Homo sapiens: one gene and its partner. The protein of the gene in region 1 purifies or fractionates together with the protein of each later gene. This does not show direct contact. Each region holds a gene or a part of one and is shown on either strand. Other genes may lie near its edges.

Evidence for each region.
Region 2: the proteins of TKTL2 (region 1) and GUF1 purify together in Homo sapiens (co-immunoprecipitation; one large-scale study listed by IntAct). This does not show direct contact.

The regions. Positions count from the first base shown.
Region 1 is NC_000004.12:163,470,953-163,474,982, reverse strand, and holds TKTL2 (transketolase-like protein 2), read left to right. Parts: upstream 1-1,228; 5' UTR 1,229-1,248; coding exon 1,249-3,129; 3' UTR 3,130-3,888; downstream 3,889-4,030. UniProt on the Homo sapiens protein: Plays an essential role in total transketolase activity and cell proliferation in cancer cells; after transfection with anti-TKTL1 siRNA, total transketolase activity dramatically decreases and proliferation was significantly inhibited in cancer cells.
Region 2 is NC_000004.12:44,691,911-44,695,423, reverse strand, and holds part of GUF1 (translation factor GUF1, mitochondrial), read right to left. Parts: intron 1,013-3,513; coding exon 911-1,012; intron 1-910. UniProt on the Homo sapiens protein: Promotes mitochondrial protein synthesis. May act as a fidelity factor of the translation reaction, by catalyzing a one-codon backward translocation of tRNAs on improperly translocated ribosomes. Binds to mitochondrial ribosomes in a GTP-dependent manner.

The DNA of each region.
Region 1 (4,030 bases):
GTTCACGCCATTCTCCTGCCTCAGCCTCCCGAGTAGCTGGGACTACAGGTGCCCATCACCACGCCCAGCTAATTTTTTTGTATTTTTAGTAGACACGGGGTTTCACCGTGTTAGCCAGGATGGTCTCGAACTCCTGACCTTGTGATCCGCCTGCCTCGGCCTCCCAAAGTGCTGGGATTACAGGTGTGAGCCACAGCACCCGGCCCACAAATTTAGTTTTTTAAAGTAAGTAACTTTGTCTTAAAAATGATTTGTAGTAATAGTCATTAAAAGATAAACTGAGGCACATTAAAATATTAAAGCATTTATTTGACCATTCAGTGATTCATGAATCTGGTAGCTCCTGATAAAGGAGCCAAGGAGAAGGCTTTTATAGGGTGAATTTGGAAGCAAAGGAAAGATATTTGATTGGTTAAAGTGGAGTACTAGACTTATTTGGGTCATCCCAGTGGAAAGTCCCCAGTTAGAAGTTAGCTGGCAGTTTCTGATTGATTAAGCTTAAATTTCCTTTTTATCATTTACACTGATTTGGGTTTCCTTTCCTTAGGTAGGAACTCATGGAGCTGAAGCTACCTCAGCCTACTGGCCTTCTAATTATTTCAACACAGAAATAGTACTTTACGGCACACTGGAGTTGCAATTCTATTCTGCAATTGGGTGGTTTCAGATTTGTTCTTCCTATAAATTTTGGTCAAATTAGTCATTGCATTTCTTTCTATAAGTCTGAGATTCAGATATTTGGTTGCTCTGAGAAAGTCTCTGTTGAGATAGCATTGCCATACTGGTCAGATTGAAAGTGACTTTGTATCCTTTCTATTAATGTTCTGATATGAAAGAGTGATGACTCGGATATAGTGTTAATGCATTAAAAAAGCACAGCCTGACAAATCGCTTCCTATAATACACAGAAAAATGTCTAGTCTTGAATTTATAACACAGGGAAAGGTAAAAAATTTAATTATGCTTCCTAATGTTGAACATGCACGTGACAAAGTAAATACTAAAAATCCATTCAGCTGGGCGTGGACAGGGAGAGGGAACGGTGCACATCAGAGGGTGCAGGCTACTCCAACGTTTCCGTTTCCTCAGTCTCGCGGGAAGCTCCGTTGTGGGCGCCCCGGCTGGTGGCTGAGCTCAGGCCTTCAGGCAGAGGGGAGGCGAGGGCGGGGCGGTCACGTGAGAGCACTGCCGCGGTGGGTTGTGGGGGTGCTGCGGCGCCGTTTGCTTTGCCAAACCGACAAAAGAGAGATGATGGCCAACGACGCCAAGCCCGACGTGAAGACCGTGCAGGTGCTGCGGGACACAGCCAACCGCCTGCGGATCCATTCCATCAGGGCCACGTGTGCCTCTGGTTCTGGCCAGCTCACGTCGTGCTGCAGTGCAGCGGAGGTCGTGTCTGTCCTCTTCTTCCACACGATGAAGTATAAACAGACAGACCCAGAACACCCGGACAACGACCGGTTCATCCTCTCCAGGGGACATGCTGCTCCTATCCTCTATGCTGCTTGGGTGGAGGTGGGTGACATCAGTGAATCTGACTTGCTGAACCTGAGGAAACTTCACAGCGACTTGGAGAGACACCCTACCCCCCGATTGCCGTTTGTTGACGTGGCAACAGGGTCCCTAGGTCAGGGATTAGGTACTGCATGTGGAATGGCTTATACTGGCAAGTACCTTGACAAGGCCAGCTACCGGGTGTTCTGCCTTATGGGAGATGGCGAATCCTCAGAAGGCTCTGTGTGGGAGGCTTTTGCTTTTGCCTCCCACTACAACTTGGACAATCTCGTGGCGGTCTTCGACGTGAACCGCTTGGGACAAAGTGGCCCTGCACCCCTTGAGCATGGCGCAGACATCTACCAGAATTGCTGTGAAGCCTTTGGATGGAATACTTACTTAGTGGATGGCCATGATGTGGAGGCCTTGTGCCAAGCATTTTGGCAAGCAAGTCAAGTGAAGAACAAGCCTACTGCTATAGTTGCCAAGACCTTCAAAGGTCGGGGTATTCCAAATATTGAGGATGCAGAAAATTGGCATGGAAAGCCAGTGCCAAAAGAAAGAGCAGATGCAATTGTCAAATTAATTGAGAGTCAGATACAGACCAATGAGAATCTCATACCAAAATCGCCTGTGGAAGACTCACCTCAAATAAGCATCACAGATATAAAAATGACCTCCCCACCTGCTTACAAAGTTGGTGACAAGATAGCTACTCAGAAAACATATGGTTTGGCTCTGGCTAAACTGGGCCGTGCAAATGAAAGAGTTATTGTTCTGAGTGGTGACACGATGAACTCCACCTTTTCTGAGATATTCAGGAAAGAACACCCTGAGCGTTTCATAGAGTGTATTATTGCTGAACAAAACATGGTAAGTGTGGCACTAGGCTGTGCTACACGTGGTCGAACCATTGCTTTTGCTGGTGCTTTTGCTGCCTTTTTTACTAGAGCATTCGATCAGCTCCGAATGGGAGCCATTTCTCAAGCCAATATCAACCTTATTGGTTCCCACTGTGGGGTATCCACTGGAGAAGATGGAGTCTCCCAGATGGCCCTGGAGGATCTAGCCATGTTCCGAAGCATTCCCAATTGTACTGTTTTCTATCCAAGTGATGCCATCTCGACAGAGCATGCTATTTATCTAGCCGCCAATACCAAGGGAATGTGCTTCATTCGAACCAGCCAACCAGAAACTGCAGTTATTTATACCCCACAAGAAAATTTTGAGATTGGCCAGGCCAAGGTGGTCCGCCACGGTGTCAATGATAAAGTCACAGTAATTGGAGCTGGAGTTACTCTCCATGAAGCCTTAGAAGCTGCTGACCATCTTTCTCAACAAGGTATTTCTGTCCGTGTCATCGACCCATTTACCATTAAACCCCTGGATGCCGCCACCATCATCTCCAGTGCAAAAGCCACAGGCGGCCGAGTTATCACAGTGGAGGATCACTACAGGGAAGGTGGCATTGGAGAAGCTGTTTGTGCAGCTGTCTCCAGGGAGCCTGATATCCTTGTTCATCAACTGGCAGTGTCAGGAGTGCCTCAACGTGGGAAAACTAGTGAATTGCTGGATATGTTTGGAATCAGTACCAGACACATTATAGCAGCCGTAACACTTACTTTAATGAAGTAAACTAGGCTTATTTCTAAAAAGTCAAGTCTATTGGCTTTGGCCCAAAAGCACTGGTATCTTTGTATTAAATTCATGTTTATTGTCACAAAACCATTATTTATACCTATACAGTTGTACTGTTTCTTTTAAAGCAAAGCCATTTAACATCTTTCTTCATTCCTAATTTGGAAATTAAAGTTTACCTTTCTGTTAATCTATGTATAAATGTTACTCTGAGTTATTAATGTGGATTTTAAAATTGTAAGCAATAGAATAGGAAATAAAACAACTACCTAATACAAATATTTCTGATAAGACTACAAATATCTGACTGAGCTGGGGATTAAAGTAGAGGTAACTGTATCTTAAATGAGTATGATTTCCTTGTAAGTTAAAAAAATTGAAATTTAATTGTAGACTTCAATAGTCCAAGTTTTGAAGGATGTTTGAGCTTTTGTATAATGCCATTTATACCTGCAGTTTTACAGATAATGTTTGACTGCAGTTGCCTTGGAAATTCCTCCAAAGTTTGCCTTCATCTCTCCTCTACAGTTTGGAGGTGATGGTGCAGCAGTGGAACATCTCTTGATGCACCACACTACTTGTGTTCTGTGAAGTGATGAAAGTATAACTGGTTCTAGTTTGCACACTACACACATAGTTTTGTGAAGCTTCAGAAATGTTTTTTCTTTTCCTTGTGGCCAAACCAGTTTGTTAATCTGATTATATTCATCTGCTAATGATACTAAAGTTAATGTAATAAAGCATTTAAAAATCAGATACTTCAGTCTGTGCTGTGTATGTGGGATTTGATTTCTTCCTGATGAAATCCTAAATAAGGAGAACTTGTGTCTAAATAAGAAACAGAGAGAGTCATGACCCCCAGAAGCAAACCTGGAAAAAGGTTGAAGCTGGAGATAAG
Region 2 (3,513 bases), about 120 Mb from region 1:
ATATTTAGAAATACAACATTAGACAATAGAAACTGTTCTTGATTCTCTTTCCTTACCCGCTGAAAACGGTTAAACATTTTGGAATGATTATTTTAAACAGTTATCTTTCTAATCACTTTTTTGCATTTTTTTGTATGATCAGTGTTTACGATATATTCTACCCTCTTTATATTTAACAGACATTTTTATGTCACTAAATATTACTCCACAAGTTTTAATGGCTGAAAATAACAATATGGGTGCTTTGTAATTCATTTTAACCAATCTGCTGTTTCTTGAACACGTGGGGGTTTTCCTTTTTATAATTTTTTTACAAATATAAAAGGGCGCGGTGGCTTACGCCTGTAAATCCAGCACTTTGGGAGGCCGAGGCGGGCAGATCAGAGGTCAAGAGATCGAGACCATCCTGGCCAATATGGTGAAACCCCATCTCTACTAAAAATACAAAAATTAGCCGGGCATGGTAGCATGCGCTTGTAGTCCCAGCTACTCAGGAGGCTGAGGCAGGAGAATTGCTTGAACCCGGGAGGCGGAGGTTGCAGTGAGCAGAAATTGCGCCACTGCACTCCAGCCTGGCAACAGAATGAGACTCCCATCTAAAAAAAAAACAAAACAAAACAAAAAAACTTGTTCCCAATTCTAAATCCATCATTATAAAATGTTTAAAACTTTTTTTAATATGGTGAAGGGAAACATTTCTATGACACTGTTCTTTTTGACTATTATAGCTCTGTTCTATTTTTAGCAGTCTAGAGAGAAGTGTGGAAAAAAAAGAGAAAGCAAAGTTAGTAGGGTGAACTCTATTTTAATTACCTTAGAAGTTTTTTAAATGCAGCTGCTCAAACAAAAATAAATGAAAAACATATCAAAAGTATTTTCACATTCCATGATTAGTTTCTATTGAACTTACTTGTGTACAACAGTTACTAGCTCCTCTACAGTATTTCCATTCAGTAGAATATCCATTTTTACAAGTTCTGCAGTCTGGTAGCCTGCATCTTCGTAATCAAAACTAAAAGGAAAAAAGTCCAAGTGATAAATATTACACTTCCTGAGAGATTACCTTTATTACTCTTTACTCTTTACTAAATGTCTACTTTCTACCGCATTACACTCCCCAAAGAGATATGTTTCCATCAAAATATTACATATACAGTTTCTTGTGAATGGATCTAAATGTTATCTTTTTATGTTTATTAAATCAAGGGCAAAAGCAAGGGGAATATGTTTATAGGGGAAAGGAAAATAAGCTGGTGAACCTGACAAAGAAAATGGTTTATTGAAGACAAATATCATGCCTTCCCAATGTTCCCAGCAGCTGGGAGGCTTCGGACAATACTATATATTATTAATGGATCATTTTCAGATTCATGAGTTGGGTTTCTGTTTAACTTTCTATTACCAATGACAACTCTATGTTTAAATAAATGCTATGACACTCATAAAATGCCATTAATAAATGAGACCTTTGGATTTCCTATTTGGCTCTTCAGCTTGCATCTCCCTTCACAGGGCTTTTGTGAGGATTAAATGAGTTAATACATGTAAACCAATTAGAGCAATGCCTAGTACATAATAAGTGTTTAAACAGAGCCTAGCTTAGCACACACAAGCACTTAGTTTCAGCTATTACTTTTAACAATGTGGTCAAAGCTTGTAATGTTAGTCAAAACAGACATTTAAATGTTTCACTTATAAAACTGAAGTCTAAAGAAAATTTCAATTAGGCTTACAAGTTGTCCCAATCACAGACAAGAATATGTATACTCCTATTGTCTTAATTTTAAAACAATTGGTGCCTGGACTTGCAAAATTATATTTGGTTTCTAAAGATTTTCAGCAGGAAGGTCATAAAGTGACAATAATACACTCTATTAACAGATTATTTTCAGAAGTACTGTTAAAATCCTTTCTTTCTTCAGGAAGCATCACTTATACATTTACTGTATGAAAGATACCATGTTAAGTATCATACAGAATACAAAGCAAATAGAGAATAAAACAGACATGGTCCTTAACTTTGAAGTTGTTACAGCTCCAGCTATGTTGTGGTCCAAAATATTAAAAATCTTAAAAATTTCTTAACTCATTTTTTCAAAAGAAATCATTATAAAAATTGTGTTTTTGTTTCCAAGCAGTCCAATTGATACCTAACCTCTATTGAAAACATAGGTATTCTAGTGTTTCCTTAGAATGCAGGAAACACATTTGTAATTCCAAAAAGCTACTAGTTGCTGTTGATTCTTGCCTCCTGGTATGAAATAAGTTTTTTCCTGATCTTAATTCATAGTCTATGATGACTTTCTGTTAAGTGTGGAATTGACTGCCTATGTAAAACATCCATCTTGAACATAATTACCTTAATGCTGGAAGCTGGAATATTTTATTTTTATGTAGTTCAAAAATAAATCATGTTCTCTCATTAAATTCAAAATGTATTTAAGTTTCCAAACGACAAGGCTTTTTAAGACCACTTATAATTCAGAAAGTAGTACCCAAATGCAAACTAAAATTGACAGACTTCTGTTAAAAATATTTATAAACATTAAACCTACTAATCTTCCTTTCAACTCTAGTAATTTTAATATGCCCCTCAATTCATTTTACTTTAAATTCCATTGCCACTTACTTGCTCAAGGTCTTGTCTGAAAGAAGACATAGAAGAAGAAAAAACTGGGTGACAAAGTAGAAGAAAATTCTCAATACAAAGGAACATGAAGATTCCTTGGTAAGAAGAATTATATATGCTAACTCTCTTCACTGACAAGATGATTAAATAAAGTTAAACTTCCAAGTCACTGTAGCATGTTTGTTAAACACTGGAATTTGTCTCTGCATGTTAACATTAACATTCATGCACTGTGTGGGAGTTTTATAGATGTCAATGTTCATTTTTCCCCTCCTGCTTCCCCATGTTTCACATCTGTTTTCTATATATACTATCCCGTAACATAAGATTTTAGGGCATAGTGAGGGTATCTAGAGTTATATGCCCCAACAACAACAACAACAACAAAAAACAGCCTCTCAGAATGCTATGCCCTGAGTTTCTTATTTGTTATTTAATAGTAACTCTCCTTTCACTTTTATCTGGCTTTTCTCCATGTACTCCTATGAGATACACAAAGGTTTTCGTGATGAGGACAACCTGTTCCTCAAAAGACTAAGTTATTAAAGTGTTCACTAATGGAGCGGCACATCTAACATTTTTTACAGACTGAATATGCACTTTTATTTTTCAAATGTAAATAGATGCTCTTGAGATTGCATAACATAAATATACATTTTAAAAGTGCCACTGAGGTTATGGTAAATTTTTGAAATTAGGTCTAATTCTTAACAGACAAGGAATACAGCTCTTCATGAAAAGGGGACTAACTTTTTTTGTTAAAAGAGAAATAAAAGTTAGATAATAAATCAAAGGAAACTTTTCTCCTATAAGCAAATCACAAGTAGTCTGTAACACCTATAAAGTTGTTCCAAGTCATTCTAACCTTAGAGTATGATTCTCAA